3 linked regions of the Homo sapiens genome follow. The protein of the gene in region 3 purifies or fractionates together with the protein of the main gene of each other region. This does not show direct contact. Each region holds a gene or a part of one and is shown on either strand. Other genes may lie near its edges.

Region 1 (10,794 bases), about 49 Mb from region 3:
GGGTAGCTTATAAACAATAGAAATCTGCTTCCCACACTTATGGAGGCTGGAAAGTCCAAGATCAAGAGGCCAGCAGATTTGTGTCTGATGAGGGCTGCTTTCTAGTAAACAGTTGGCACCTTCTCGCTGTGTCCTCACATGGTGGAAGGGGCAAATGAGCTCCATTAGGCCTCTTTTATAAGTGTGCTACTCCCTTATTAAAGGGATTAATGATCTAATCAAAGGCCCCACCTCTTTATTTTTAATTAAAAAAATTTTAAAGTTTGTTTTTAGAGACAAATGAAAACAACAAAAAAAATTTTTTTAATTTGATTTTAGGGCCTCACTCTGTCATCCAGGCTGGAGTGCAGTGGCATGACCACTACTCAATGCAGCCTCAAACTCCTAGGCTTGGCCAGGCGCAATGGCTCATGCCTGCAATCTCAGCACTTTGGGAGGCTGAGGAAGGCAGTTTGAGGTCAGGAGTTCAAGACCAGCCTGGGCAACATGGTGAAACCCTGTCTTTACTAAAAATACAAAAATTAGCCAGGCATGGTGGCATGCCAAGTAGTCCCAGCTACTTGGGAGGCTGAGGTAGGAGAATCACTTGAGCCCAGGAGATGGAGGCTTCAGTGAGCCAAAATCGTGCCACTGTACACCAGTCCAGGTGACAGAGTGAGACCTTGTCTTGAAAAACAAAAGAAAAAAAAATTCCTGGGCTCCAGCAATACTCCCACCTCAGCCTCCTGAGTAGCTGGGACTACAGGTGCCCACCTTGATGCCCAGATAATTTTTTTTACTTTTATTTTTGCAGAGACATGATCTCACCATGTTGCCCAGGCTGGTCTCAAATGCCTGGGCTCAAGCGATCCTCCCACCTAGGCCTCCCAAAGTGCTGAGGTTATAGGCATGAGCCACTATACCAGGCCTTCCCCATCTCTTAATATCATCACATTGGGGGTTTGGATTTCAACATATGAATTTTAGGAGGACACAAACATTCAGACCATGGTAGCTATGTATATGCTAACTATATCTATATATATATGGTGACCATATATATAGTAACTCTATGTTTAACTTTTTGAGGAACTGCCGAACTGTTTTTCAAAGCAACTTACCATTTGCTTTCCCATCAGCAGCGTATAAGGGTTGCAATTTTTCCACATCCTAACCAACACTTGTTATCATCTTTTTTATTATAGTCCTTCTAGTAGGATGTGAGGTGTTATCTCATTGTACCTTAATTTGTATTTCCCTGCTGATAAATGATGTTGAGAATATTCTGTGTGGCCATTTGTATGTCTCCTTTGGACAACTGTATATCCATATTCTTTGCCCATTTTTAGTTAGGTTATTTGTCTGGGGTTATTGTTGAATTGTAATAGCTCTTTATTTATTTTTTATACAAGTCACTGAAAATATATATGATTTGCAAATATTCTTCCCATTCTATAAATTGCTTTTTCACATTTTGGTTGCTGCCTTTAAAATATAACTATTTTAAACTTTGATAAAATCCAACTTAACTATATTTTCCTTTGTTGCTTATGCCTTGATGTCTTATTTAAGAAGCCATTGCCTAATCCAAGGTCATAACGTTTAGTACTATATTTTCTTGGAGGAATTTTATAGGTTTAGACCTTACATTTAAGCCTATGCTGTATTTAGTTAATTTTTGTATATGTTGTACGTGGCTGTCCTTTCTGATGTTTTAAATATAAGCCTCCTGTATCAGATAGATGTTCCTTAAGAATTTGTGACATGTGTTATACATTTACATGCCTGTCTCAATGTCCTACACTGTGCTAGACACATAGTTACTGTGTTTGTACGTGTGAACATTTGATATTTTTGTTGAGGTGAAGAATATTTCACAAGATGTCCTGGTGTTCAAACTTAAGTCGGTGGGGGGAGGTGGGGGAAAAGGTATCCCGAGCATGGTTTCCTACATAAAACTTTCTGTAACTAAAGCAGTAAATGTAAGCAGTGCATTTCTTTCCCCTTAAAGATTTCACTGTTATCTCGGAGCCCTTCTTTGGTCTGTGAAAACAGCCATATTCCTAGCAAATCTTGTTTCTCAGTTTGCCAGTCCTTTTCTTGCTAATTACAGTGACTGCCCATTTCTGTCAAAAAAGTGGCTTTTGCAACCTCCCTTCCCATTTAGATCACATTCCACACCCCTGGATTTCTACCTCTTTAGTAGCGTTATTGGTGTGTGCCATTTTTGGCAATCCCCAAGACAAAGAAAGAATTCTACCCACCTGGTATTTGACAAGAATAATTCATTACATTTCATCTTGCTGGCCTCATGTCGCATTTTCAAGTCCCCCCTTACACATTTCACACCCACACAAATCCTCTCTTATTTTCTCCTACCCCCATCCTCTCTCCTTCTTTCAAACCCAGGGGTTATATTTTGAATTGACCTTCTAGAAATATAAAGCACAGTGCAAGTAGGCACAGAAAAAAAGCTAAAGTCAACCTGAGCATTACCAAGCCCGAGGGCTGCATTTGACGGCAGATCTGTGAGGCACTGCTTGGTCTAAATCTAAGTCCAGTGCTTGGTACCTTATTTGGATATTGCTGCTTTCATTGCTTGAGCTGTTCTTCCAAACACTGGCGTACTCAGCTACTTTTCAGTATGATGTAAGTACCACAAGCATTGCATTGTCCTAGTGGTTCTAGCAGGGGATTTCAGATAAGAGTCTACATTTGAATACATTCTAAATCTTAGGTAGAAGTGAATATTTAAGAAATGCACTTGAAAGCGTCACTTGATAAACTGGAAAAAAAAAATCCCAGTTTCAGAGAGGTGAGGCTGACTCCTCTTTAATCTTCAAAGCAAGTGACAGCTTGAAATAGTCAAAAAGAAGGCCTGAAGGGATCAGCTGCACCCAACCTAATCTAATTATTCTTCCACTGGTACTTAACTGAAGGTCCTTGCCTTCCTGTGCATTAATTGCTCAAATATATACTGCTGACTTTCTAAAGCCAGTAAAGTGTCTTATGAAGCTATACTCAAGCGATTTCAAATGTTAAGAAATAGGGCAGTTATTCACAATATTAAAATTCCCCACCCCCACTCTCTGTCACTAAATGTAGAGAACATTCGTAGAAGTGGATTCAGGAAAGCACGGTAGTTAGAGCAGTCGGTGCTGTCGTGGGGGTGTTCAGAAAGTAACTCTTACTGGAAAGTGGGAAAATAACTAGAATTTGGAAACCGAGTACAGATGCTCTGCAACTTATGATGAGGTTACATTCTGTAAATTGAAAATATTGTAAGTCAAACATGCATTTCATATACCTAACCTACCGACGAACATCACAGCTTAACCTAGCCTATCTTAAATGTATCCAGAACATTTACATTAGCCTCCAGTTGGGCAAAATGATCCAATATGAAGCCCATGTTATAGTAAAGTGTTGACTATCTCATGTAATTTATTGAATACTGTACTGAATGTGAAAAACAGAAAGGTCCTAGGGGTATTCAAAGTACGGTTTCTACTGAATGCCTATCGCTTTCACACCGTCATAAACAAAAAATCATAAGTCAGGGACCATCTGTATTAAAAGAGTTTCTAAACCATGACAGTTGGCTTCAACAATTTTGTCTGAAGGAAAGGGAATATTCAGAAAGGGCATAGATATTTTAGGTTCTAGAAAGGCATGTTTAGAAAGCCATAATTTTTTTGTAGCTTACTGGAGCATGTGCAAATGTCATAAGATACAATTCTTAGCTTCATTCCCAGCTCCATTTTAAATCTCTACTCCAAAATAAATAAATAAATCTCTACTCCACCCCTCTAAGCCTCCCAATCCCCACCCACCTTTTTTTTCTTGTTTTGTGCCACTTATAATGTATACTATCTCACAGTTTATGCATCCTTATACGTTGCCATAAATCTTTTGGGGGATAAAGTGGGGGAAATAAATAAGTATATTTTTAAAGTGGGGATTTTCCCATTGAGATTTGTTTTTTGTTTTTCTGCGATCAATCCAGGCTGGAGGGCAGTGGTGTGAATACAGCTCACTGCAGCCTCCACCTCCTGGGCTCAAGTGATCCTCCTGCCTCAGCCTCCCAAAGTGCTGGGATTATAGGCATGAGCCACTGTACCTGGCCCCTGAGATTTCTCCATGGAACAGACCCACTGTTTCTTTGACATTTGTGTTGGTTTGACACCAGCATGTTTTCCATTTTCTCTGTACCAAGCTATTGTGAATTTGTGGACAATGAAAATAATTTGAAATCTCTGCTCTTAAAGAACTCAAGTTTTCTTTAGAACTATTTAAAAAACACCAAAGGAAACCTCTGAAAATCCTGTCCATCGTTCAGTCAGTAGCTGCTGTATCCAGTGTCTATCATCGTGAATGTCATGGCATGTACAGAGAAACTGAAATGCTGGATGCAATTCTAGGTGGTGGTGTAAAGTTTTTGAGTTGGCAGAAAATAAAGAATAAAAGAAAGAAAAAACTTCCGTGATCTCAAGACCCAGAGAGCTTCTTAACATTTTGCTGTATTTCCTTACAGTCTTTTTCTCTGAACATTTAACGTAAATAAGCTCTTAATTTTATAGCTGCATATCCAGTTCTGCAGTTTTGTGCCCTAACAAGCAATTCCTTAATTTATTAAAAACATTTTCCTGTATATTTTCAACCCCATAATTTACATAAACTCCCTCATCTCCGGACATTCATATTGCTTTCAAGTGAACTATTTGGAACGTCCACGAGTAGAAATATTGGAGAGTAGACAGATAAGAGACTGAAGGCATCAATTTCTCCATGATAACTAGCTAAAAACACTGTAGTGGTTTTCCCTATTTTTTTTTCTGCCAAGCCTTTGGCATCTGACTAAATTTTGCTGCTTTCACTCCTTTCTGAGTTCCACCCCTTTCTTGAGGCCTCTCATCTTGTTTCCCAGTAATGTTAATGAACAAAAGGTTATCTGCCTAGCGAGTTCCTTTTCCAAGCGTTTGAGACAATTCGACAAGATTATGAGACTGCGAACTGGAGTCTTTTATCTTTAAAAGGTATTTTAATCTGAGCCTTCTTGACGTTTATTTTCTGAGCCCATGAATTTGCTAGCGAGGCAGTTTCTCTGGTTTGCTGTTTCTGAAAGGAGTTCCCTCAACAGAGTACAACAGTTAATGGGGGAAGTGGAAACAAAAGCGGGAAGCAGGAGGACCGTTCCCCATCACTAGCCAGTCTTCAACAGGTGAAGTTGTTTAGCTCTTCCTGGTACCTGCAGGCACCGTTCCAGAAGTATTAAAATCCAAGGTGTGGCTGAGGGTGGGATGGAACATGTATCTCCATCTAACAGCTTTAATAGACTGTTAGTTCTAACTTGCATATAAAAACACACAAATAAGTACAAAGAGCTGGAGAAGCTGGGGAAACAGTTTCTGAGTAAAACCTGTGGCACTAGGTTGTGTCTTTCCTTTCCCCTCAGGCAAGAGCATCATCTGTTTGACTGGCATCTGGCTGGAGCGTCCGAAGGGGTTAAGAACGCTTGCAAACTCCTGGGAGTCCAGTAGGAGTTGCTGATGGTGCCGGACATTGCTTGCAAAGCAATTTTTGTGGTTCACCTCCCTCGGGGTTTTCTTATTCTTTTGTAGGACATTCAAGGAGTTGGTTTGGGCATTTACTTTTTAAAGTTTCTCCGTCCCAGACTCCTCTCTCCAGCTCCCGGGGTGCGGCACCTCTCACCTCCCTGAGGCTTTTTGTCTCGCTGCAGGCGTGGGGAGGGGGCGAGAGGACTTTGTTCTCCGAAAACGACCTTGCCCTGGGAATTTCCTGGGGCCGTTTCTCACGGACAAGCCCCCTCTCCCTGCTGCCAGCGCGGACACACGCCGCGGGGGCCCCAGTCCAGCCTGAGCTCTAGACGCCCCGCCGGCCACCAGCGCCCCGGGAAAGGCCGCCCGCGCTCCCCCGCTCCCCCTCCTCAGGGCCCGCCGCCTAGAGCCCGGATGTTGGATTCAATTCCTGAGCCGGGTCCTTCATTTCCATAAAAGGGCAGCGCTCCGCGGGGCCGAGATTGCCGCCCCGCCGCGCCCCCCGCCACCCCCGCGCCGCCCCGCCCCACGCCGCCCCGCCCCGCCCGGGACCCGCAGCCCCCTCCCCCGAGCGCGGCGCCGGGAGGGCGGGGGCAGAGGCGAGGCCGGCCGGACCCGCTCAGGGCAGCTCTGCGGGCGGCGAAGGAGGGAGCCAGCGCGCCCAGCCCAGCCAGGCTCGGACAGAGGGGGCGGGGAGAGGGTGGAGCGCGGGGAGCCAGGCGAGGGGCCGCGACGACGGGACTCCATTAGCCGCTCCGGCCACAGGCAGCGCTTCGCCAGCCGAGGAACCGGACGCGGACACCGCCGCCCCGCGAGCCTCCAGCCCCTCGCCTGTTGCCGCGCGAGTCCCGGGCCCGGAGCGCTAGGAGCGCGCGGTGAGGGAGCGGGACCCCGCCGGGACCCGAGGGGGCGCGGCGGGGAGGGGAACGGGGAGTCAGCCCGCGCTGTGTCTCGGGGCCGGCCGGCAGGTGAAGCCCTCCGCGGTCCGCTAGGCGGGGACGGTGTGGGGCGGGCGGCGCCGGGACCGAGGAACGCTGCGGGGCGAGCGGGGCGTAGGGTCCTCCCGCAGCCCCGGCCGCCGCCGCCCTCCCGAGTTTCTGCCGAAAGCCCCGGGTCCTCCACCACCTCCCAGCCCGTGGCCGGCGCTGCGAATTCGGTGGGATTCGCCTTTCTTTGGGGGAGTGACGCTTACGAGAGCCATTTCCTCCGCGCTCGCAGGAAGGAGCCATGGCTCTGGACGGGATAAGGATGCCAGATGGCTGCTACGCGGACGGGACGTGGGAACTGAGTGTCCATGTGACGGACCTGAACCGCGATGTCACCCTGAGAGTGACCGGCGAGGTGCACATTGGAGGCGTGATGCTTAAGCTGGTGGAGAAACTCGGTGAGTAGCATCCCAGCCGCGTCCAACTAATGACTTCCCAGAATTGGTAGGGGGAGGAAAGAGGCTCACGACGGGGGAGGGGCCCATTTGAGAAATCTTGGCATCTCGCAAATGCTTTTTGGAGATGTAAAATCTTTCAGTATTTAAGCAGATAGACCTGTTCCCCTTTGCGTCTTATTTTGTTTTGCTATTCTCTGAATTTTCATATGTAATGATTCGAGCCTCCCAATTATAACCTTAATTGCGTAGTTACGCGGGACGGGGGATGTGTGCCGGGGAACTCGTTAATTCTTAACATTTACTGACAGAACGATAAAAGAATGAGGAAAGTGTGTTGGGAGGGTGATATTACAGTGTCCGTGGTTATCTATGTCTTCAGCATACCTGAATGTTAGTGACGTTTGGTATAGAGAATGATGCAAAATCCATTTAAGAAAAATCTGTGCTGGAAAATGTGCAACTACTGGCGCCAGTGTGAAGTTTCTGTGGCTGTTCTACGTGGTGGAGTGCATTAAAATGTTCCAGTCATCCACTCTTACTAGGGGTGGGGCAGTGCTTGACAAACTTGGTATCCATAGTCCATGCTCGATGTAAGCCGTTTCGAGCGTTCGGTTTTATATTAATAACAAGCCAAGGAAAGAACTTTGTGTTAAAAAGCAGACTTTGTTAAACTAATTTGAGGTTGACGGTGTTTGCTTGAGTACAAATATGTATTGGATTGATATCCGATTTAAAATAATAAGGTATCTTACAGTATGAAGTGTGTGAAGAGTGTGCAGTACACATTTTTGTGATGAATGAAACCATTTTCATCTGGAAGAGTCAGCTAAATAGATGATTTGATCATAAGAGAAATGCTCAGAGAACTATCTTCCTGAGCTTTAAAGAGCCTTTTGTACATAATACAGTTGTGATAAGATGATTATCTGTGTGGCATTGTCTTTTTAGGCTGGAATTGTTTTTTGTTTTGGTGAAGGGGGGTTGGGGACTTTCTGGGGGTTTTTTTCGTCTTTTTTTTTTTCTTTTTTTTTTTAAACACAGCATTCGTTTTCAAGCTACACTGGGAAAGTAGAGAAGTGCTTATTTGTCAGGAAATCTATTTCTTACCAAAGGATTATTGTATGTAAAGGTACTGAAATAGCACTCTGATGCATTTTGCAAAATAAGGCAGGATTCATTTGGGTGGACCTGCTTTGTACCCCTGCAGGAAGTTTTATTATTGAAGGACCAAAGTGAAGCTCCTTACAAGGTAGCCTCTTCCTTAAGACTGCATTGTTTGGCTCCCTGAGATACAGCTCAGGAAAGAAAATCCTCCTAGGTAGCCCAGTGAAAATTAGATTTTGCTGTATTGATTAACCATTTAACTGGCAGTTAACAGTATTTTTATCTGATTTGAATAAATCAGTCACTGTTTGCAAAATATGTATGAACCTTTTTTGTCCAGCTCTGGTATGAGATTATTTAAGAAGGAAAATAGCAAATATTTGGATATTTTGTTTTCAAAGAAAACAAGCATTTTTGTTAGAGCTTTTCTAATTTATGGTAAATGGACCATATTAATACATTGGTCTCAATAGGAGATATTTTTTATATTGCAAAAAAAGGAGCTGTTGAAGGTGACTGAGACAACTTGTAGTTCTCGAAAGCCAGGCTGTAGCTAATGAATAAATAATGGTTTCTATATTTATTTTGCATTGCTTAGGACTGTTTATTATAGAATCACAGTAATAAATAGAAATATAGAGAATAAACTGCAGACAGAAATGATGTTAATTTAAATGACTATAATCTTAATCTTTTAATGCTGATACATTTTTAATTTTTTATGCAGAGAAAAGAAGCCCAACAAGGTAGGAAATGCTGTGCGTATGGAAACCTTACATCTTTTCTGAACTGAATTCATACTGATTCCTCTTATATTTTGAATTCCAAATAGAAAGTGCCTCTGACTTTCCTGTTTGGTAAAAGTAGAGCTAAGTGATGCTTTTGGTTTTTAGGATTAGATGCTTTGAATGGTAAGCTATTTCGTTGCCTATCAGCAAGTAAATAGAGGAGAGATTCGGTAGGGCAGCATTTAAAACATCCACAAATCAGGCTAGTCAAATTAGAAAAGAACTTTGTAATTTTTCAGAGTTGCGTAAAACTGGAATGACCTGCCTTCTGAAGCCCTGACTTATGTCACTGAAGGTATTAAAGGGCAGACTGGATGACTACTTGCCAACAGTGGCTAGAGAGGATCAAAGCAGCTTGCAGAGTCTAGATAAAAGGTGGAGATGGTGGTAGGGATGAGATGGTACAAAGTCTGTTGTCTCAGGTTTGCAGAGCAGTGATGGAAAATTAGCAGACTTGGGCTACTGTGGCCTTGAAGCAGTTATGAACAGAAGACACCAGAGCATTCACTTACATTTTCAAACTCCAGACTGTCTGATATCCTTCTTAATCTGTTGGACGGTATATGAATACCAAAAGCATTATATTTTAAGGTGATTTTCCCAGATAATGTTCAGTAGCAGCAATTATTTCCCTGAAGTCGATAGATCTCAGGATGACCTATTCCCTCAACATTGTATTAAAATTGTGTGTGTGCACATGTGGAAGTTTCTAGGAAGAGGCTTCTTCACTTTAATTTCTCAAAGAGGTCTGTAACAAAAGAAGTCATGACACAATTTTATGGTTTGGCCCTTGTGTGTCAGGTTCATCTTGAAGCTAGGGTTCATCCCAGAGTGCGGCATTTTAATTAAGCACGACATAAGTGTAAATAATGTTTCCTTAATATGTGTCAGTAATATCTTTGTGTTTAGTTAGACTTTTATTATAAATAACGTGTACACTTTGCTTAAGGCCATTAAAACACAATTTTTAGAATTTTGACTTTAATTCAAAGATCTGAAAAGTCTCATTTATTTATTTATTTATTTATTTTTTACTTTTTGAGACGGGAGTCTCACTCTGTCGCCCAGACTGGAGTGCAGTAGCGCGATCCCGGCTCACTGCAAGCTCCGCCTCCTGGGTTCACGCCATTCTCCTGCCTCAGCCTCCCGAGTAGCTGGGACTACAGACACCCGCCACCATGCCTGGCTAATTATTTGTGTTTTTAGTAGAGACGGGGTTTCACCGTGTTAACCGGGATGGTCTTGATCTCCTAACCTCGTCATCCGCCTGCCTTGGCCTCCCAAAGTGTTGAGATTGCAGACGTGAGCCACCACGCCCATCCTAGGTCTCTTTTAAATCTCAGTATAAAACACATTTGTCATTTGCTATTAATCTTTTAAAAGAAAGCAAAAGCATATGTCATGAAGTGGGCTTTGGGGAATTATATCGTAATGTGACAAAGTTTTTGCATTTGTGACTTAGTCTAGGCTGATACTTCATAAATAATTGATCCCCTCAGTGTTTATACTTCATCCAGAAAGTGAAAAACACCCTAAAATCCAGTTTAGGTTGGGTACGGTGGCTCACATCTGTAATCCCAGCAGGCAGGGAGGCTGAGGCAGGTGGATCACCTGAGGTCAGGACTTCGAGACCAGCCTGACCAACATGGAGAAACCCCATCTCTACTAAAAATACAAAAATTAGCTGGATGTGGTGGCATGTGCCTGGAATCTCAGCTGCTTGGGAGGCTGAGGCAGGAGAATCACTTGAACCTGGGAGGCGGAGGTTGCAGTGAGCCAAAATCACACCACCCAGCCTAAGCGACAGAGCAAGACTCCGCCTCAAAAAAAAAAAGAATTGTGAAAATTTAGTACTGTTTGGTTTGGTTTGAGGCAAGGTCTTGCACTGTCACCCAGGCTGGAGTGAGTGTGTGTTCATGGCTCTTTGCATCCTCAAACTTCTGGGCTCAAGTAATCCTCTTGCCTTAGCTTCCTGAGTAGC
Region 2 (10,928 bases), on a different chromosome or scaffold from region 3:
TAGAGCCAAGTAAAAATAAGTGACTAAAAGGCACCACCATCCCAAAAGATGTTTGCTTTAACATGAAGAACAGGCCTCAGTATGTCTATAAATAGAGAAACATGACAGAAAAACAGTAAGCAGAACTATCATTAATTCTCTATCACTAGTACTCTCAGAGAGGATGAAACAGAAAGGTCACTAAAAGTGATTTCTCACTTAAAGGGATGTCAGCTGGGACTGAAAAGATACCAATGGCAAAGACAATCTTGGCAGTTAAGGCATCAAATAATCTCTAAGGTTATTCAGCCTAAAAAAGGGGAGTCTGAGATGTGCAGCATAATTTACCTATGCTCTGGGGACTGTATCAAGAATAAATAGCGATCAAATCAAAATCCCTGTAATTCAAAACTTAGAGGAAACAGAGTAACCCTGCTTGCAGGTTGGGAATGCTCACAAGCCAGACACTTTGTTGTACTGATTTCAAGAAACGAAAAAAATACAAAACAAAACTCTAAAGTCATCAATAAATTAATATCACAGTTGCAATCACCCTCTGGGAGAAGACCTGAGCTTATTCGCCAGAATTTGTCATAAACTCTAAACTGTACTTTCTTCATCTGTAAAATGAAAATGGGAGTTTAACAACTACCCACTGAATTAGAAACTCTGGGGCTAGGGCCCAACAATTCATGGGAGTTACTGTTAAGATTAAGGAAAATAATAAAGGTATGGTGTTTGGCAAATAATGGACAAACAATAAATGCTTGTGGCTAAAATAACATTTATAAAAATACTTCCTACTTGTCTACAATCCCCTAAGAAAAATCTAAACATTGGCCAGGGACGGTGGCTCACGCCTGTAATCCTAGCACTTTGGGAGGCCGAGGTGGACGGATCACCTGAGATGGGAGTTGGATACCAGCCTGACCAACATGGAAAAACCCCATCTCTACTAAAAACACAAAATTAGCCAGGTATAGTGGCGCATGCCTATAGTCCCAGCTACTCGGGAGGCTGAGGCAGGAGAATCGCTTGAACCTGGGAGGTGGAGATTGTGGTGAGCCAAGATCACGCCATTGCACTCCAGCCTAGGCAATAAGAACGAAATTCTGCCTCAAAAAAAAAAAAAGAAAAGAAAAATCTAAACATTATCCAAATTCTATAAAAAGACTAGTCAAACAAAAAGTTATCTGAAGCCAGGCGCAGTGGCATGTGCCTATAGTCCCAGCTACTCAGGAGGCTAAAGCAGGAGGATCACTTAATCCAGGAGTTCAAGTCCAAACTGGATAACACAGCAAGACCTTGTCTCTAAAAAAAATAAAAATAAAATAACTAAAAATTTAAAACACTATCTTTTATCTTTCATTTGTTTTGACTGAAAGAGCTTCCCAAAACTAATGCCTCATACTTCCAGAATTCTAATAGTATCAATCACATAAAAATGATGGTTTTTGATTTTGTTTCCTTAGATGAACTCTAATATAGAATTCTGACAAAACAGCCCAGAAATGGACCCACACAAATACAGTCAACTGATCTCTGAAAATCAAAGAGCAAAGACCATACAAAGGATAGTCTTTTCAACAAATGGTCCTGGAACAAGAGGACACCTACATGCAAAACATGAATATAGATACAGAGCTTACACTTTTCACAAATATTAACTCAAAACAGACCATGGACCAAAATGTAAAACACAAAACTAAACTTCTAGAAGATAACACAGAAGAAAATCTAGGTGACCTTGGGTTTGGCGATGAGTTTTAGATACAATACCAAAAGCACGATCCATGAGATAAAAACTGACAGGTGGGCCTTCATTAAAACTAAAAGCTCTGCAAAAAAACACTGTTAAAAGAATGGAAAGACAAGCCCCAGACTGGGAGAAAATATTTGCAAAACAGGTATCTGATAAAGAACTTGTTTCCAAAATATACAAAGACTCTTAAAACTCAACAATACAGAAACAAACAATCCAATTTACAGTTCTCAAAAGATCTGAACGGAATTCATCACGGAATTCCACTTTGTGATAAACAATGTTCACAAGTAATTGCTAAAGTTCTTCTGAAAGCAAAAATGTTAATTTCTAAAAAAGGAGAAAAGCTATAAAACAGTAGAAATACTGATGTTTCATTATCAAAAGAGAACACCAGAGCATACTACACCACATAGAGTATAAACACAAAACATTTTGAAACTTTGCATTTCAGAATGGGGATGTCAAACTAGAGAACTCTTTCTTCTATTTGGAATAACAAACCAGATGAGCTGGAAATTAGCTAAGGCAGATATTTAACATCCATCTTACAACCCAGCTATCAATATACAGGATCACAAATTAGGATTTTGTATTTCTAATTCACTTTGCTTTTTCTTTGTGCTAGTCACTAACTGATCAGATTTTCCTCCAGTACTGTTGCTGAAACCATCTGCATTGAACTTTTATCTGGATTGGATACAATTTACAGGGCATGATAGGAAGAAAATGGGCCTTCATCACCTCTACACAAAGCAGCCTCCACTGATTTGGGGAGCAGAAGTGACTGGCGGGGAGCGGAACACACCTCTGTGATGATGGCTTTTTGGTCCTTCACCCTTTGAGCCTCCTCTGGGTCCTGCTCCAGGCTGAAGACTTTAGAGAGGGGCACTGGCTTCCCACCTCGGCACAGGACTGCTTGGCACGTGCCAACATTGGCTACAGTCAAGCTAAAGCTACTTGCTGGATCGGCAGTGTCAGGGCGGATGTAGCACAGGAGAGCGGAGGAGCCCAACTTCTGGCCAGCCATTCCTAATTTCCTGTTCAGAAAGAAAAGGAAAAGAAGACGTGGTGGCTAGTTTTAGAAGAAAGTGGTGGTCCTGCACGTACATCCCTTCTTTTTTTTTTTTTTTTTTTTTACCATGTGATCGTGAACCAGCCTTACCCTTATCCACCTAAATGCAGACTTGCTGTGGCTGATGGTGGTGGAGACAGTTCTGCCTTCCACTCTCGCTGAGGAAAAGGTTTTACAAAAGGGAGATAATCTCCCTTTTGCATCTTTCTCCATAGCTTTTGTGTCTGATCAAAGACTTCCTAATTCAGGGGCTCTCAAACTTTAACACATCAGAATCCCCTGAGGGCTTGTCAGAACAGGGACTGCTGGGCCCTAGGCCCAGAGTTTCTGAATCAGTGGGTAAGAGGCTGGCCCAATAAACTATACTTTAAGCAATTTCTGGTGAGGCTGAGAGGCTGCTGTTCCTAGAACAACACTTTGAGAACCACTCACTTAGGTTCTAAGTTCCTCGAGGGAAGGACCATGATTCTTGCATTTCCCCCATATGCAGGGCATCCACGCGTCTGTACTTGGAAACAATGTTAACGAGGAACAGACACTAGCAGAAAGACCTAGTTTCAAATCTCAGCTCTGCCATTTTCTGGCTACAGACACTCAGCAAGCCATTTCTCCAGGAAATTTCTCTGATAAAATATATAGCATGGAAAATACTTGCTACAATTCCTGGCTTGAGTTGCTTCATAAATGGAGTTCCCTTTCCTAAACCCTTTATTTTTGCAAAGTCTCTAGCTCAATTATACTACTGAAAAACTGACTTCTTCCTAACACTTTGCTTTGTGTTATGACAGATAAAACTAATTCAAGCCCATCCTGGCTAACACGGTGAAACCCCATCCCTACTAAAAATACAAAAAATTAGCCTGGTGCAGTGGCTCACGCCTGTAATCCCAGCACTTTGGGAGGCCGAGGTGGGCAGATCACGAGGTCAGGAGATCGAGACCATCCTGGCTAACACGGTGAAAACCCATCTCTACTAAAAATACAAAAAATTAGCCGGGTGAGGTGGCGGGCACCTGTAGTCCCAGCTACTCGGGAGGCTGAGGCAGGAGAATGGCGTGAACCCGGGAGACGGAGCTTGCAGTGAGCCGAGATTGCACTACTGCACTCCAGCCTGGGGGACAGAGCAAGAAGACTCCGTCTCAAAAAAGAAAAAAAAAAAAAAAAAAAAAAAACTAGTTCAAGCTCCAAGCTGTTCCATTTCAACCTGGATTATACAAGTTGACAAACAACCTCTCAGTTGTTCCTATCCTTTATCGGTCCACCTGACATGCAAATGCTCCATTACAGTTAGGTTATACAGATGTCCTCAACTTATGATGGTTCAACTTAAGATTTTTTGACTTCACGATGGTGCAAAAGCAATACTGTATGCATTTAGTAGAAACTGTACTTTGTATTTTGATCTTTTCCTGGGCTAGTGACATGTGGTACGATGTTCTCTCATGATGCTGGGCAGAGGTAGCGACCCATAGCTCCCAGCCAGCCACTTGATCACAAGGGTAAACAACCAATACAGTGCCCTGTGTCACCACATGATTTTGCCCAACTATAAGCTAATGGGGTAAGCGTTCTGAGCACACTTAACGTAGGCTAGGTGAAGCCATGATGTTCGTTAGGTTAGGTGTATTAAATGTAGTTTCTACTTACCACATTTTCAACTTATGATGTCAGGCTTACATCCTTATCAGGGTGTAACCCTATTCTAAGTTGAGGAGCATCTGTATATGGTTTTTGCCCTTAAGTGGCTTATACTTTACTTAGAAGATTAGTTTGGTAAAACCCCAGAAAGAGGCATTCTAAACGTTATCAATCTGATAAGTATTTGGTTAACTGTTTTGTAGGTCACTGACTGCTTGGACAATCTTATGAAAGCTGACCACCTTCCTCCTCAAAATGTACAACCACATATATATACACACACAACATTTTGCACATAAATTCTGGGCTTCCCAGATCCTCAGCAGCCTTTGGATTCAACAGAGAAAACAGATGACCCCCACAGGCTTTTGAAAGAGCCGAAGTCCCCGCACTCCATGCTCATATAGAGAATGATCATAGAAGACAACAACGTGAGTTCTCTCCTTGATCCTGTATCCATAATTTAGACCCTGACCTTCTGGTTTAGAAAAATATATTTTCCAAAAGTAGAACTGAGTTAGGGATTTTTCAACCCACCTGCTTACCTGTGAGATACCAAGAAGGTGTTAGCCATGAAAACTGTGTCATTAGTTGACTGCTGTACCTCTTCTAAAAGCACATCTGCCATCGTACACTGCAGCAGGCGCGGGAGCTCCTCATTTCGGTCTCCATCAAACATGCCATACACAGCTCCCACCCCCTCTGCAAAGCTATCCATAGCAAGTGCTGAGACACACAGCCTATAATAGAAACATGAAAACAGAAAACAGAAAAGTTACTGGTAAAATATTATTCTCCAGGGAGCATTCTTTTTTTTTTTTTTTTTGAGAGGGAGTCTTGCACTGTCACCCAGGCTGGAGTGCAGTGGCATGATCTTGCCTCACTGCAAGCTCCACCTCCCAGGTTCACGCCATTCTCCTGCCTCAGCCTCCCGAGAAGCTGGGACTACAGGTGCCTGCCACCACGCTGGGCTAATTTTTTTGTATTTTTAGTAGAGATGTTAGCCAGGATGGTCTTGATCTCCTGACCTCATGATCCGCCCACCTTGGCCTCCCAAAGTCCTGGGATTACAGGTGTGAGCCACCGCGCCTGGCCAGGAGCATTCTTTTAAAAAGTAAGTATTAATTAAAGGTGGCAAAGACTACTAGCAAATCGTAATCTACACGTAAGAAAAGTCCCTAGACATGATAATTAAGCAACATCTGAAAGAGCTAATGTCCTAAGGAAAGGGGAAACAGTCGCATTCATGGGCAGTACATATTAGCTTTGCAATGCTGCCAAAGGCTGGTAAGATAAAGCACTTTCTCTTAGTAGTGACTAAGGATTAGCTTTGTCAAGGCCTATCAGTCAAAGACCACCAGAGCACACCTATGGTTGAAAAAGTTGAGTTTATTACCCCTTATAGCAAATGAGAGTGCACCCCATGGAACCCCGGGGTATACAGGTAAGTCTTGCTGAAAAGAACCCAGTATAGGGTTTGGACTTTGGTTTGGTCACTTTGGGGAGGGTCTAAGGAAGAGGATCATACTAGACTGGGTGTCATCAGAAAGTGAGGCCATTCTATTGCTGGGTATAAAACTTATCTATAGGGAAGGAAAATTAGCAGAAGGATAAAGCTGTAACTGGTAAAGAAAGTAGCATCTACCCATCTTAGCCATGAAAGGGGGTGTTTGGTATTCTGTTGACTACACATTAGTATTGTTTTTGTCTTAAAACGTTATCATGATCCCAAAGGGATCTTATCTGACGCTGATGTTCTATGATTTGTCTGTGTACAACAGAACAACATGGCCTAGCTATTATGAGCATCAGGCCAGTTCTCAGATGCCAGGGGCTGCCTTTTTTCTTTCTCAGTCTCCATGGCCAATATACTCACTTATTTCTCTGCCCTGCCATCTCAGCCAGTCCATGGCTCCAGAAGGTTGACGTAACTGTAGAATCTGTGGTTGGCAAAGGTTTCTGATCAATTTTCAGGGTTGTGATATGGCTGTGGGAGGTGAAGGAAGATTAAACCATATATTCTTCTGTATTTTACAAAAACTATCCCAACAATAGTATTCTTTTTTTTTTTTTGAGATGGAGTCTCCCTCTTGTCACCCAGGCTGGAGTGCAGTGGTGTGACCTCAGCTCACTGCAACTGCTGCCTCCCGGTTCAAGCAATTCTCCTGCCTCAGCCTCCTAAGCAGCTGAGATTACAGGTGTATGCCACCATGCCCGGCTAATTTTTGTATTTCTTTATTTTATTCTATTTTATTTATTTATTTTTTTGAGACGATCTCCCTCTGTTGCCCAGGCTGGAGTGCAGTGGCGCAATCTCGGCTCACTGCAACCTTCGCTTCCTGAGTTCAAACGATTCTCCTGCCTCAACCTCCCAAGTAGCTGGGATTACAGGCACCTGCCGTAACAACCAGCTAATTTCTGTATTTTTAGTAGAGACGGGGTTTCACCATGTTGGCCAGGCTGGTCTCGAACTCCTGACCTCAAGTGATCCGCCCGCCTCGGCCTCCCAAAGTGCTGGGATTACAGGTGTGAGCCACCGCTCCCGGCTAATTTTTGTATTTTTAATAGGGATGGAGTTTTGTCATGTTGACCAGGCTGGTCTCAAACTCCTGACCTCAGGTGATCCACCCACCTTGGCCCCTCAAAGTGCTGGAATTACAGGCGTGAGCCACCACGCCCGGCCAACAATAATATTATCTTTTTTTTTTTCTCTTTTTTGAGAAGGAGTCTCGCTGTGTCGCCCAGGCTGGAGTGCAGTGGCGTGATCTCTGCTCATTACAAGCTCCGCCTCCCGGGTTCACGCCATTCTCCTGCCTCAGCCTCCTGAGTAGCTGGGACTACAGGCGCCCGCCACCTCGCCCGGCTAATTTTTTGTATTTTTAGTAGAGACGGGGTTTCACCATGCTAGCCAGGATGGTCTCGATCTCCTGACCTCGTGATCCACCCACCTTGGCCTCCCAAAGTGCTGGGATTACAGGCGTGAGCCACCGCACACGGCCAATAATATTATCTTTTAATAAAATAATCTATGGACTGACTAAGATTCATTTCCAGAGAGACTGATGAAAGTAGTATGCTGAACTACTGGCAAAGAAGGAGGGGAGAGAAAGGAAAGGGGTAGGAGGATCAAAGGGGTAGGAGTTTCAATAAAAAACTAAGCACAACAAAGATTTCTATGTTTTAGCCAACCATCTATTTATGTTAAGTATTTTGATACAATGAAGTCTTGGTACAATGGATGAACTTGTATTGTCTCTTAGATATTATATAATCTGTGCCACCTAAAACATCTATGCCTGTTGTGAAAATATTCAGTATGTTGGGGGGTAGTAGCCATGGAGTAGTCCTAATATAAACAGGTTGACTACTGGATAGAACATCTATTCATAACTTAATCAAAGAAGAGAACCTAGGGGCTTTATAGCCTAACTTCATTCTGTTCTTTTAATTAATCAAGATCTCCACAGTACTAAGGAAGACCTACACATGGCTGGTGGGCTAAGAGCACATAGAGATTCCATTTCAAATTTTTTCCTACCTAAATATGTCCAGTGTCTTGTGTTCCAGAACCAGATTTGTATTTCCAGTCAGGTCAAGGTCTTGTAATGTAGCAGGCAAAGCCTCTGGAATCAGGATTTCTGTCAAGTCGTTGCAACTTAGGTCTACAAACTAAGAAAAAATTGAGAAATCAAAAGAAAATACATCACAGAGACTTAGTTCTTTACTCCCAAGTGTCCAATCTCTTACTATATCCCCAAAGAGGAACTTAATTTCTTCCCAGGAATCCATTACATAAATTCTGGTCCCAAACTGGAGCACATAAGAAGACAATAATATTTTTCCTTATAAGAATAATCTCATTCACACTCCTTTCTTCTTCTTTATAAAAGGAAAATAATGTCATTCACTCTCCTGCCATTTCCCCCAATAAGGACATCATTCCAGCACACAGAAGTACCTGGATCTGAGGCAACTGCAGTATTTCTGGGAAAATGCTGATGTTGTTGGAGTGTGCAACAAGGGTGTGCAGCCTTTTACAGTTTGCTATGGTTGTGGGAATGGTTTTAAGCTTGTTGCCACTTAGGTTCAGTTCCTCCAATTGCTCCAATTTATTTAGTTTGCTGAAAAAGAAACAACAGAATACTATAATGCACCAAGACTGAGCAGCTGCCAAGGAAGTGCTATTCTACAGCAGCCACAGAGTACAGAAGGCCGACACGGTCCACTGCCAGATGACTGGTGAGAAATGAAACCGATACCAGGAATACCAGGAAAGGCAATGGCTCAAGAAGATAACTACTCCTGCTATAACTAAGCCTGATCTGCCTCAGTGTGTTTCAAGGGCTGTTGGATCTTGTGGGCAGGAACATCTTCCTGTTACCTAATGTACAAAAAGTGGCTAGAAAAGGAGTGGCCTCAAGTTGGGGGATTAGTCTTGATGCTTGCTTTACCACTAACTAGCGGCAAAATACTAAGTAAGTCAATGTCAGCAGTCTTTAATACCCTCAGCTGTAAAAAATGAAAAATGAGGTTGTACTAAATCATCACAAAGATTTTTTTTTTTTTTTTTTTTTGAGATGGAGTTTCACTCTTGTTGCCCAGGCTGGAGTGCAATGGCCTGATTTCAGCTCACCACAATCTCTGCCTCCTGGATTCAAGCAATTCTCCTGCCTCAGCCTCCCGAGTAGCTGGGATTACAGGCATGCGCCACCACGCCCGGCTAATTGTGTATTTTTAGTAGAGACAGGGTTTCTCCATGTTGGCCAGGATGGTCTCAAACTCCCAACCTCAGGTGATCTGCCCACCTCAGCCTCCCAAAGTGCTGGTATTATAGGCATGAGCCACCGCACCCGGCCCATCACTAAGATTCTTTACAGTTTTAAATTTCTATACTTACCCATTCATGACATTAACTCATCTCCACTAAACATTTATCAAGTTCTTATTATACACACAGCACTGTGCTGTGAGGCAAGTGATTCACACTGTTCCATGACTGAGCAAAGCTTTCTACATGGTAAGCAAAATAACTTAAGTGAGACTAACACCTTCAGGTTATTACAAATAGTTCTAATTTATTTTGATTTATTGGTTTAAAAATTACAAAAATAATAAACTGCTGTTAACATGGAGAGAAAGTGAAAAATAAAGAAATACATCACCAATACCAGCAATCTGAAAGAATCACTTTTATCATTTTGCTGAATTTCCTATCAAATGTTTCATATATTTGTTTTACAAAAATTTTATATCTTGCCTTTTTCATATAACATATCATAAATAATTTCTACTCCTAGAAATTTCATATTTTTAAATAACTAAGCTTTGTAAATTACAATTATTTTTTCTGATAAAAATAATATATACTCACTGAAAAAAACTGAAAAATAGAGACAAACAGGAAAAAAAATCTTTTAATGCTACTTCATTAAAATAAATTAAATAATCTCTGATAACATTTTAGTAGATAGTATTCTCGTCTTTCTTAAGGCATGAAACTACACTTTTCAAATTAAAAAATGGTATTATAGGCCAGGTAGGTGTGGTGGCTCACACTTGTAATCCCAGTACTTTCAGAGGCTAAGGCAGGTCAGTCGCTTGAGCCCAGGAGTTTGAGGCTGCAGTGAGTTATTACTGCACCACTGCACACCAGCCTGGGTGACACAAGACCTTGTCTCAAAAAAAAAAAAAAAAAAAAAAAAAAGGTACTATATTATATACACTGTATTTTTTTTTTTTTTTTTTTTTTGAGATGGAGTCTTGCTCTGTTGCCCAGGCTGGAGTGCAGTGGCGCAATCTTGGCTCGCTGCAACCTCTGCCTCCTGGGTTCACACCATTCTCCTGTCTCAGCCTCCCAAGTAGCTGGGACTACAGGCACCCGCCACCATGCCCGGCTAATTTTTTGTATTTTTAGTAGAGATGGATGGTCTCGATCTCCTGACCTCGTGATCTGCCCACCTCGGCCTCCCAAAGTGCTGGGATTACAGGCGTGAGCCACTGCGCCCGGCCTATACATTGTATTTATGATTTTATTTAACAATATATTTTAAAAGTGTTCCCATGTCCAAATCTCGTGCTTTTTTCCCTTATCCTGCCTGGATTTTTCTGACTTGTAAATAGAAATGCAGCCTCCTCAATCAGTTTCTGAGTACCCAGAACTGTGCTAGATTCTGAAAATAGTTCAAAAGAAACAAACAAGATTTCTATTGTGCCTATACAATTACAACACTGCTCAGGAAATGAACTGATAGTGGATTTATTATTTAGTACAGAACACACATTTTTAAAAATATGTTGTTCCTGAATTCCATTCAGTTTTATTATATATATTCAGATTACTCTATTTTTTGTGATGTTAATTCTTGTCTTTGTCTTTTTTTTTTTTTTTTTGAGATAGGGTCCCGCTCTGTTGCCCAGGCTGCAGTGCAATGGCGCAATCTCAGTTCACTGGAACCTCCACCTCCCAGGTTGAAG
Region 3 (9,059 bases):
GCCCCATTGACATTGGAGAGAATTCAAGCCCAACAGGGAATTCCATTACTTATCATTGAGCACTGACTAAGATTTTTTTTTTTAACTAGACTTTTTCTGAAACAAAAATATACCTTATAGTGCAGAAACTGGACTGCATAATTTTTATTCTTGTATTTATTTAATTAAATGTTCTAGGTATTTCTTTCTTAATTTGAAAGACAGGAGAAAAATGTGTTCTGTTCTCTTCCTCTTTTGTCAAACCCAATCCAAATAAGCCAGAGTCATGTAAGTTAAATGACTGTGCTTCCCACACTGGCCTGGGGTCTGAGACAGGCTGGTGCCCTGTTCCTTAGAACGCTTGGGAGTGGCCCTGCAGGCTGGTCGTCGGAGCCAGGTGATGTGTGTCTGTGGAACGGGAGACAGCATGCTCGCTTTGGGGTCTGATGGGCCCGTCTGTTCCCCTGGCACTGGTTCGGCTGTGTCTCTCCGCCTCGGAGTCCTTGAAGTTGTTCTCTGTGGGGGTACACTTCCCCAAACATCCTCTTAGCCTGATATTTGCTGTCTTTCTGTCCTTCTGTCTTGCTCAGCTGTCCAGCACCAGCAGAGGAAGAGGCCTTTCTTGGCCATCCTATTCAACATTGAAATCACTAGAGTCCCCTTCTCCCCAGCACGTTCTCTTCTCTCCCTGGTTTATTTTTCTCCACAGCACTTATCATCATCAGATCACATAAATTTCACTGTCTTCTCATCCCACTTGAACCTAAATTTCATGAGGGAAAGATGCCTGTTTTAATTTATATTGTATCAGTGCCTGGCATATGGTACGCACTCAATACTGGATGGATGGATGGGACTTCAGGCAAGTTTCTTGACCTCTCTAAGCTTCTTTTCTCACTGATAATATGGCGACAATCCCTGCCTTCCTGTAGGGAGACAGGCATGACTGCATTTTCCATTTTCCATGCGAGGCAATTTGGTAACATCTGTAAAAATCATAAATGTATATATCTTTTGGCTCAGTTACTCCACTGGGAGTTTATCCTGTAGGTACATTACTCACACATGTGAAAAGTGCGTGTGTGCAAGGGCATTCATTGCTACATAGATGTCCATCAGTGGGGCACTTCCACAATAAACCACAGTTTATCCAAACAGTTGAATACTCTGCAGCTTTAGAAAAGAATGAGGATGCTGTCTTTGTGCCCATACAGACTGATGTACAAATACACTTGGAGGCTGGGCATGGTGGCTCACGCCTTTAATCCCAGCACTTCGAGAGGCCAAGGCAGGAGGATTGCTTTGCTCCTGAAGCCAGGAGTTTGAGACCAGCCTGGACAACATAGCGACACCCTGTATTTACAAAAAATATAAATTTTTAATCAGCTGGGTGTGGCGACACTCACCTGAAGCACCAGCTATACTCAGGAGGCTGAGGTGGGAGGATTGCTTCGGCCTGGGAGGTCAAGGCTGCAGTGAGCCGTGATTGCACCACTGCACTCCAACCTGAGTGATGGAGCGAGACCCTGTCTCAAAAAAAAAAAAAAGATATGGAATGAGAAAGCAGAGGTGAGACAGTGCATAGTATGCTCCCTTTGGTATGAAAAAGAAGAGTGGATAAATGCGTATTCATATTTGCCTTGTACATGCACAAAGACACTCTGGAGAGAGAAATGAGAAACTAGTACAGTGACTCAGGACAGAGGATCCGGAATGGAGTAGAAGAATGTAAGGCTTTCTACTGTATACTTTTATGTGAATTAATAATGTATTACCCATTCACACAAAAAGCGTATCTTGAAAGGTAATTTTGAGGCTTAGAGAGCATGGGTGTAAGCCTCTACCAGTGGCCAGCACCCACAGTAGACACTCTGATTGGAAGTGAGGGCCAGCACGCTGCTGTTGCTGCCCACAGACACTGCTGCCTGCCTGCCACTCACCCTGATATTGCTGAGACACAGGGCGCCCCCAGAGAAGCACGTGTTTTCCCTGCTGTCAAGCACATGATTGACAGAGAAAAACAATGGGTAAGGCAAGTGAGAAACCCTTACCACAATACAGGTGGATCCAAGGTCGGTTTTTTTTTTTTTTGGTCTGCGGTTGCTTAAACTGGTGTGCTCAGTCCACCATTGCCAGTGTGTCACAGTAACATTTAATTAGGCCCCCACAGGGGGATTGAAGTAGATTGGCACAGGATGTTATCTGTAAGTTACATCCATGTGTCTACTTAGGGTCGTCTCAGTGCACTGTTTTTTTTTGTTGTTGTTTCTTTTGAGATGGAGTCTGACTTTGTCGCCCAGGCTGGAATGCAATGACGTGATCTTGGCTCACTGCACACAGCCACCGCCTCCTGGGTTCAAGTGATTCTCCTGCCTCAGCCTCCAGAGCAGCTGGGATTACAGGTTCGCACTACCATGCCCAGCTAATTTTTGTATTTTTAGTAGAGACAGGGTTTCACCATGTTGGCCAGGCTGGTCTCGAACTCCTGACCTAAAGTGATCCACCCTCCTCGGCCTCCCAAAGTGCTGGGATTACAGGCGTGAGCCGCCGCGCCTGGCCACAGTGCAGCTTCTTAATACGGGAGTGAAGGTTTTTAATGTGTTTTGTCATTGCAGTAACATTTATTTTTAATGGTGCTATAAATGCTGTTCATACCTCACTATTGCAAAGCAATACTGTTTTTACTTGATCATACTAGTTTTTGAGTTCTCATGCAGTTTTTTGTTGTGTTTTTTAAGGCCCAAAATAAAATTTACTCCTAACCGTGCTGCTAGAAGTTTTTATGTCCTGAAATTTCTCCACACATGGTAAATAGAGTAACAATGAAGTGATCCTAGAAAAACTGGGATTTGATTTGGTTCTGGTGAAATGTAAGGTGCAGGAATTGGGAGCCACTGTACCAAAATCAGGACAGCAGTCTGGCTTCCCAGGCCTGAGTTAGCTGGTGTAGGCCTGCCTGACAAGGCCAGTGATGGAGCGAGCTGCAGACACCCTTAGGCCCTGGGCGATCAGGTACAGTTGTGTTTGTGGGATCAAGAGTGCTGGGGTAGTCTGGGCCCAGTGGGCACAGCAAGGTCTGGCAGAGCTGTGATGGGGGAGTGGAGGCCTCTTAATCCACCGTTCACCATCCCATCATCCTTGCACCTCCCTCCACCATCAAAAAAAAGCCCTGCTCTGGCCATGTAAATTATCTCTGTAACCCCTTGCTGAGAAAATTGCACGAAGGTCTAATGGAAATCCTGCCAGAGCAGCGCTGGGTTTTAGGTTGTTGGCATTAGTGCAGGTCAGGTGCTGTTTATAGGTAGGTCACCAGGCAGGAGGATAAAGAGGAGGTGGGGGATGAAAATACTGGCTGTGTCCCCAAGGCTGGCTTGCCACGTGCCTATTAATTTAAGAGGACCAGCCATGCCGTTTTACGGCAGTAAGCAGTGACACCTGCTGCTGAGTAACTGCCCAATGCATGGTCCCCAGCCCTGGGCCCGCATGCTGTGTGGCGTTCAGGCCTCCGTTCTTCCTGCCTGGGGTCCTTTGTTAGCAGCCTACTTTCTAGGGTCTAATGTTCATGCAGTGAGCTTGCATGGCTCATTAATTTCTTTCCCAGCCGTTCTTTTAAAAATCAAGTCGTCTTATTTCTGTAATTCTCTGTAAAGATGTAGCACACATGGCGGGCACATGGCCTCAAAGCCACCCTGGCAGAAGTCGGCATGTTTCTTGGCAGATTCTGCCCCTGTGTGCCCAGTACCCCTCTGAGACTTGAGTCAGGGACTCCCCACCTGTTAGGTGAAGCGGTGGTGTTCAACTTACCTGGGGCTGCTGGGCTCCTAAAGGGACACTGTTACTGGGGCGATGGTGCAGTGGAGAGCACTTGGCAGTAGGAGCTTCTAGGTAGAACTTGGGAGTCTTGGGACTTCTGGATGTGTTCTGGTGATGCGATTTTGCGCTCAGACGGTCCAGAAAGGGACCGCCCCTGTGGAAGGTGTTGCGCTGGCATCCCCATCACAGGATTGATTGGCAAGCAGGGAAAGAGACTTGTGCCTTTGGTGGGGCAGGTATTTTTGCCCTTCGTTATTTGGGTTTTAAAGGCAAGACTACTGACATACGCCTGTTAAAGAAACATCTCGGTCAGGGGTCCAAAGTTAGCATATGGAGCAGAGTGATGGTAATGAGACACACACTCCCGAATGAATCGTCAGTGTATCTCTCTCAACACCAGCAGAGAGGGTTTCGAGGAGATGCTTATGGAGATGCACGTGGGGCGGTGCATGGGAGTGAGGCGGCCTCAGTGGGCCCAGGCTCTGTTTTGGAGTTGTGTGTGCTGCCAGCCATGGACTGTGGATTTCACTCCCCACCTTCGAGCCGCCAGAGCAGAGGGGCAGATGGAACCAGCCCATTACCTACAGTGACAGTAAAGGCAGAGGAACCCGTGAGGGTGAGGCAGAGCCCTCCTGGCTGTGAGGACTCACAGGCTTCACCTGCAGGTCCTCGTAGAGGGGATACCACATGCAGATGCAGTGACCCCCAGATTCAGATGCACCTACTGTCAAGGAAGAAAGATCCCAGCAGGGCTGTTCCCTCCGCAGTGAACCCTGTGCCTGGCATCGTGTCTGGCACTTAGTGGCCCCTCTGCAAATATCTGTTGGCTGCCTGACTCCCTCCGTGAAAGCCAGCAGCCTAACACCGATTTTAGAAAGTAATTCTAAATTACCCCAAAAGGGCCAAAACGCTCCTTGCTGGCTTGGCTGACTGCAGGATAAAATGTGGAGGGCCTGGATAGACTTGCCCCTTCCCATCGAGAAGCACACAAGTTTTCTTGCTGGAAAAGTAGACCTTTGAGACTTCTCCGTTGTGCTAACTTGTTCTCCTTTGTCTTCACAGAGACTAATAGACAAGTCACGAGTTACCTGTGTCAAATGGGTTCCCGGTTCGGAAAGCCTTTTCCTAGTAGCCCACTCGAGTGGGAACATGTACTTATATAATGTGGAGCACACTTGTGGCACCACAGCCCCCCACTACCAGCTTCTGAAGCAGGGAGAGAGCTTTGCCGTGCACACTTGCAAGAGCAAATCCACGAGGAACCCTCTCCTTAAGTGGACGGTGGGCGAGGGGGCCCTCAACGAGTTTGCTTTCTCCCCAGATGGCAAGTTCTTAGCGTGCGTGAGCCAGGACGGGTTTCTGCGGGTGTTCAACTTTGACTCAGTGGAGCTGCACGGTACGATGAAAAGCTACTTTGGGGGCTTGCTGTGTGTGTGCTGGAGCCCGGATGGCAAGTACATCGTGACAGGTGGGGAGGACGACTTGGTGACAGTCTGGTCCTTTGTAGACTGCCGAGTAATAGCCAGAGGCCACGGGCACAAGTCCTGGGTCAGTGTTGTAGCGTTTGACCCTTATACCACTAGTGTAGAAGAAGGTGACCCTATGGAGTTTAGTGGCAGCGATGAGGACTTCCAAGACCTTCTTCATTTTGGCAGAGATCGAGCAAATAGTACACAGTCCAGGCTCTCCAAACGGAACTCTACAGACAGCCGCCCCGTAAGTGTCACGTATCGGTTTGGTTCCGTGGGCCAGGACACACAGCTCTGTTTATGGGACCTTACAGAAGATATCCTTTTCCCTCACCAACCCCTCTCAAGAGCAAGGACACACACAAATGTCATGAATGCCACGAGTCCTCCTGCTGGAAGCAATGGGAACAGTGTTACAACACCCGGGAACTCTGTGCCGCCTCCTCTGCCACGGTCCAACAGCCTTCCACATTCAGCAGTCTCAAATGCTGGCAGCAAAAGCAGTGTCATGGACGGGGCCATTGCTTCTGGGGTCAGCAAATTTGCAACACTTTCACTACATGACCGGAAGGAGAGGCACCACGAGAAAGATCACAAGCGAAATCATAGCATGGGACACATTTCTAGCAAGAGCAGTGACAAACTGAATCTAGTTACCAAAACCAAAACGGACCCTGCTAAAACTCTGGGAACGCCCCTGTGTCCTCGAATGGAAGATGTTCCCTTGTTAGAGCCGCTGATATGTAAAAAGATAGCACATGAGAGACTGACTGTACTAATATTTCTTGAAGACTGTATAGTCACTGCTTGTCAGGAGGGATTTATTTGCACATGGGGAAGGCCTGGTAAAGTGGTAAGTTTTAATCCTTAATGCTGCACCAGATCTAGAACTTGAATAGGTAGTGACTTTTTTCTTTTTCGTGGGAGGGGTGGGGTGTACAATGAATGTGAATGACACTTCTTATTCTTAATGTAAATCTCAATGCATCAGAGCCATAATTTTGGATACTGCATGCCATGTAATTCTGAATCATTTGATAATTTACCTTAGAGCATTTAAAAAAATATAATCAAACTAATTGCCAGCCAAGTCAGTCATCCTCCTGGGAGTATATAGAGTCCCAAGGTTAGCGCTCCTGTATTAGACTATTTCAATTTTAGGAAAATCATGACCATGTGGGGAAACAATGACTTTAAAATGCTGAAATTAAAATTTATGCTTTAACTGGAATATTTTTTGCTTAACTACTCAATTAGAATATTGTACACCTGATCAATGTGTGTTCAGCACAGATGGCCATGAATTGTCATTTATAGTCCAATTTTTTATCTTAATCATAAAATGTTTAGGAATCTATGAAATTTAACTTTAGGAACAAAACGTTTAGCAGGGTTGATTGATATTATTTTTACATTGTTCTGGCAATCCACAGAAAGAGAAGAGCCTTAATTTTTAAAACCCATTTTAGTCATTTTATGACAATTAAAGTTGTTTAATAAACATCTTTTTTCAAAGAAGCAGTTTGTAGCACTTTGATTGAGGTTCTGTGTACTAAGATACCCGTACCTCACTCAGAGCCTGACAGTTCGTGGGAACTGCGGGCCGAGGACGCCAACAGCATTGCAGAAGTGCCTCTTGCCACATAAGCGAAGACCTTTTCTTCAGATGCACTTTGCTTGTGTGTTTTCCCAACAAGGGAAAAGGAGTTTTTTGGTTTTTTGCCGGGGGCGGGGAGGTGCGGTGGGGGAGGGGGATTGGGTCAGAAAGGCACGTGACTCCTCCGCGCTTTGTTTCGTAAAGCCTGAGACTCCCCGAGTCTTCCGACTTCTCCCTGACATGGCCCTCGTTTGGGCTTCGTCCCCCGCAGAGGAAGCGGAAGTGCAGGTTTCCCCTCTCCTTGTTCTTGGATGGCAGCTGTGGTTCCGGGATTACTCTTGGGATGCTGACGCTGGCCATGTGCGTAGGCTTCGTCCTCAGTGGCTCCCACCCTAGCGCCTCAGCCCAGGACCTGGTGGCCTGTGGCTTCCTCGGCAGTGGGAGGCTCTGCTGCTCCCCCGGAGACCGCAGTCTTTCACCCTCACTCTCTACTGCTGCACCAGGAGCTGCTTTTCAAATTCTGGTTTTCCCAGTGGGTGAGATGGCCCCTTGAACTATGTATTCCATGTCAAGATGGTGGTTATCTTACTTGTTAACTCATTTTGGGCATTTAGGTTGTACACCTTTGTAATTAAATATAGAGACAACGATCACTTAGACCAGTTTGCGTAGTGAATATGATTCAGCAAAGTGAAGACCTGGTGGCTTTTCTTTCTCTGCAGTGTAAAGACCCTGGTAGCTGAAGCAGCAGCTCCCTGTGCTCTTAACGCAGCCCTCCCAGGAAAGCCGGGCCAGGTTCCCAGGCCTGCTTCCCATCTGCAAACATGTCACGGTGGCGCCATCCACCCTGTGCCCATCGTGGGCCTTAACGCAGTGGTTTCTGTTGAGTGTGATGGCATGGCCGCGTGCTGCCACCTGGGAACCACAGCAGCCTTCAGGTGCATCTCTCCTGGCTGTGCCTTTCACATCCCTGAGCACTGCTCCTAGGAGTATTCGTGTCCTCTCTACCTGTGGAATACGGGCCTTTGTTCCTAAAGGTGAACTGATCTAAGGTAGCCATGACAGCCATCCTTGTGGACAGTTTCCGCTTTGGAGGCCAAATTGGGTCATGTGGAGAGATTAGTGATGAACGCTCCATGTGCAACTTTTGCACCTACATAGTTGTAAACGTTCAGTTTCAAATGCTTCTGAGGCATTGAGTATGCAGTTTCAAAATTCAGGACTTAGTATTTGGCCTAAATAGAGAGTGGCCGATCCCAAGTAAGTAGCATTTATGGTGACATTTCTGGCGACCTTGCAGTTCTGAAGGTGTTGCCCTGGACAGGGAAGCCGTGGGGGTGTGTGCCCGAGTAACCAACGTGACCGACTGGGGACTCTCTGATTTCTCCCCCTTCTTTAAAATTCTCAGTCGCAGTGGCTGGGATGAAAGAGGGATTGCAGGGGTACACTGACAGGTGACTTAGGAGTCATTTGCTGATAGGAACCAGGGGTGGGAGAGGCAAGAGGAGGAGGTTATGTTTCCTTTGAAAACAACTCCGAAGTGTGCTGTCTAGTATGGAGGCCTGTGTGTGTCTTTCTCCCCCCACCTCCAGTTTTAAACACTATGATATTGTCAGTTTTGGATTTGAGGCTTGATAACAATCTTTTTCTTCCAGTTTTTGCCAAGGAGTGTACTGTCCTTAATGTCTGTCTGGTACCTTGTCTGGGGCCCCTTCGTTGTGTCTACGTGCCCTCCCCAAGGCCCCTCTTGCTGGGTTCAGGGCCCAGTGGAGAGCACTGTGCCAGCCTGGGGAGGGGCTGCCTTTGACTGCATGTCCTGACCCCTGGCTCAGCCCAGGCTGGCCCAGGCCCTGCAGGGCGACACCACTCTGTGTCCACTCTGCCCCTCTGACTGCTGCCCCTTTCTTTGACAGCCGGCAGAGCACTTCTGCAGGCAGGAGGACAGGATGCAAGGTGTTCTCCAAGACCAGAACTAAAAGTGCCCAACAGCTTGAGAAGAGGGCACTGGAGAGAGGGGCAGGGAAGCGCCCTTCTCCTCGGCTGTGCTTCTGAGTAATGGCTCCCGCAGACCTGGGGAGGGCCTGGGGAGGGGTGGCCGCGGTGGTTCCTGATATCAGGTGTGTAAGGTGCAATGCGTGCTGCTAACCCTAGGAGAAATTTGGGGAAAATATTTGTAGTTTTCTCGCCAAACTTTGAGCTTC

The links.
Region 1: the proteins of WDR20 (region 3) and FERMT2 purify together in Homo sapiens (co-immunoprecipitation; 3 studies listed by BioGRID and IntAct, with this or other methods). This does not show direct contact.
Region 2: the proteins of WDR20 (region 3) and PHLPP2 purify together in Homo sapiens (affinity purification with mass spectrometry; 4 studies listed by BioGRID and IntAct, with this or other methods). This does not show direct contact.

Annotation. Positions count from the first base shown.
Region 1 is NC_000014.9:52,946,539-52,957,332, reverse strand, and holds the start of FERMT2 (fermitin family homolog 2), read left to right. Parts: upstream 1-6,282; 5' UTR 6,283-6,412; intron 6,413-6,755; 5' UTR 6,756-6,764; coding exon 6,765-6,921; intron 6,922-10,794. UniProt on the Homo sapiens protein: Scaffolding protein that enhances integrin activation mediated by TLN1 and/or TLN2, but activates integrins only weakly by itself. Binds to membranes enriched in phosphoinositides.
Region 2 is NC_000016.10:71,650,241-71,661,168, forward strand, and holds part of PHLPP2 (PH domain leucine-rich repeat-containing protein phosphatase 2), read right to left. Parts: intron 8,576-10,928; coding exon 8,413-8,575; intron 8,124-8,412; coding exon 7,993-8,123; intron 6,442-7,992; coding exon 6,331-6,441; intron 5,195-6,330; coding exon 5,000-5,194; intron 2,782-4,999; coding exon 2,550-2,781; intron 1-2,549. UniProt on the Homo sapiens protein: Protein phosphatase involved in regulation of Akt and PKC signaling.
Region 3 is NC_000014.9:102,203,749-102,212,807, forward strand, and holds the end of WDR20 (WD repeat-containing protein 20), read left to right. Parts: exon of another isoform or gene 1-4,854; coding exon 4,855-6,132; 3' UTR 6,133-6,779; downstream 6,780-9,059. UniProt on the Homo sapiens protein: Regulator of deubiquitinating complexes. Activates deubiquitinating activity of complexes containing USP12. Anchors at the base of the ubiquitin-contacting loop of USP12 and remotely modulates the catalytic center of the enzyme.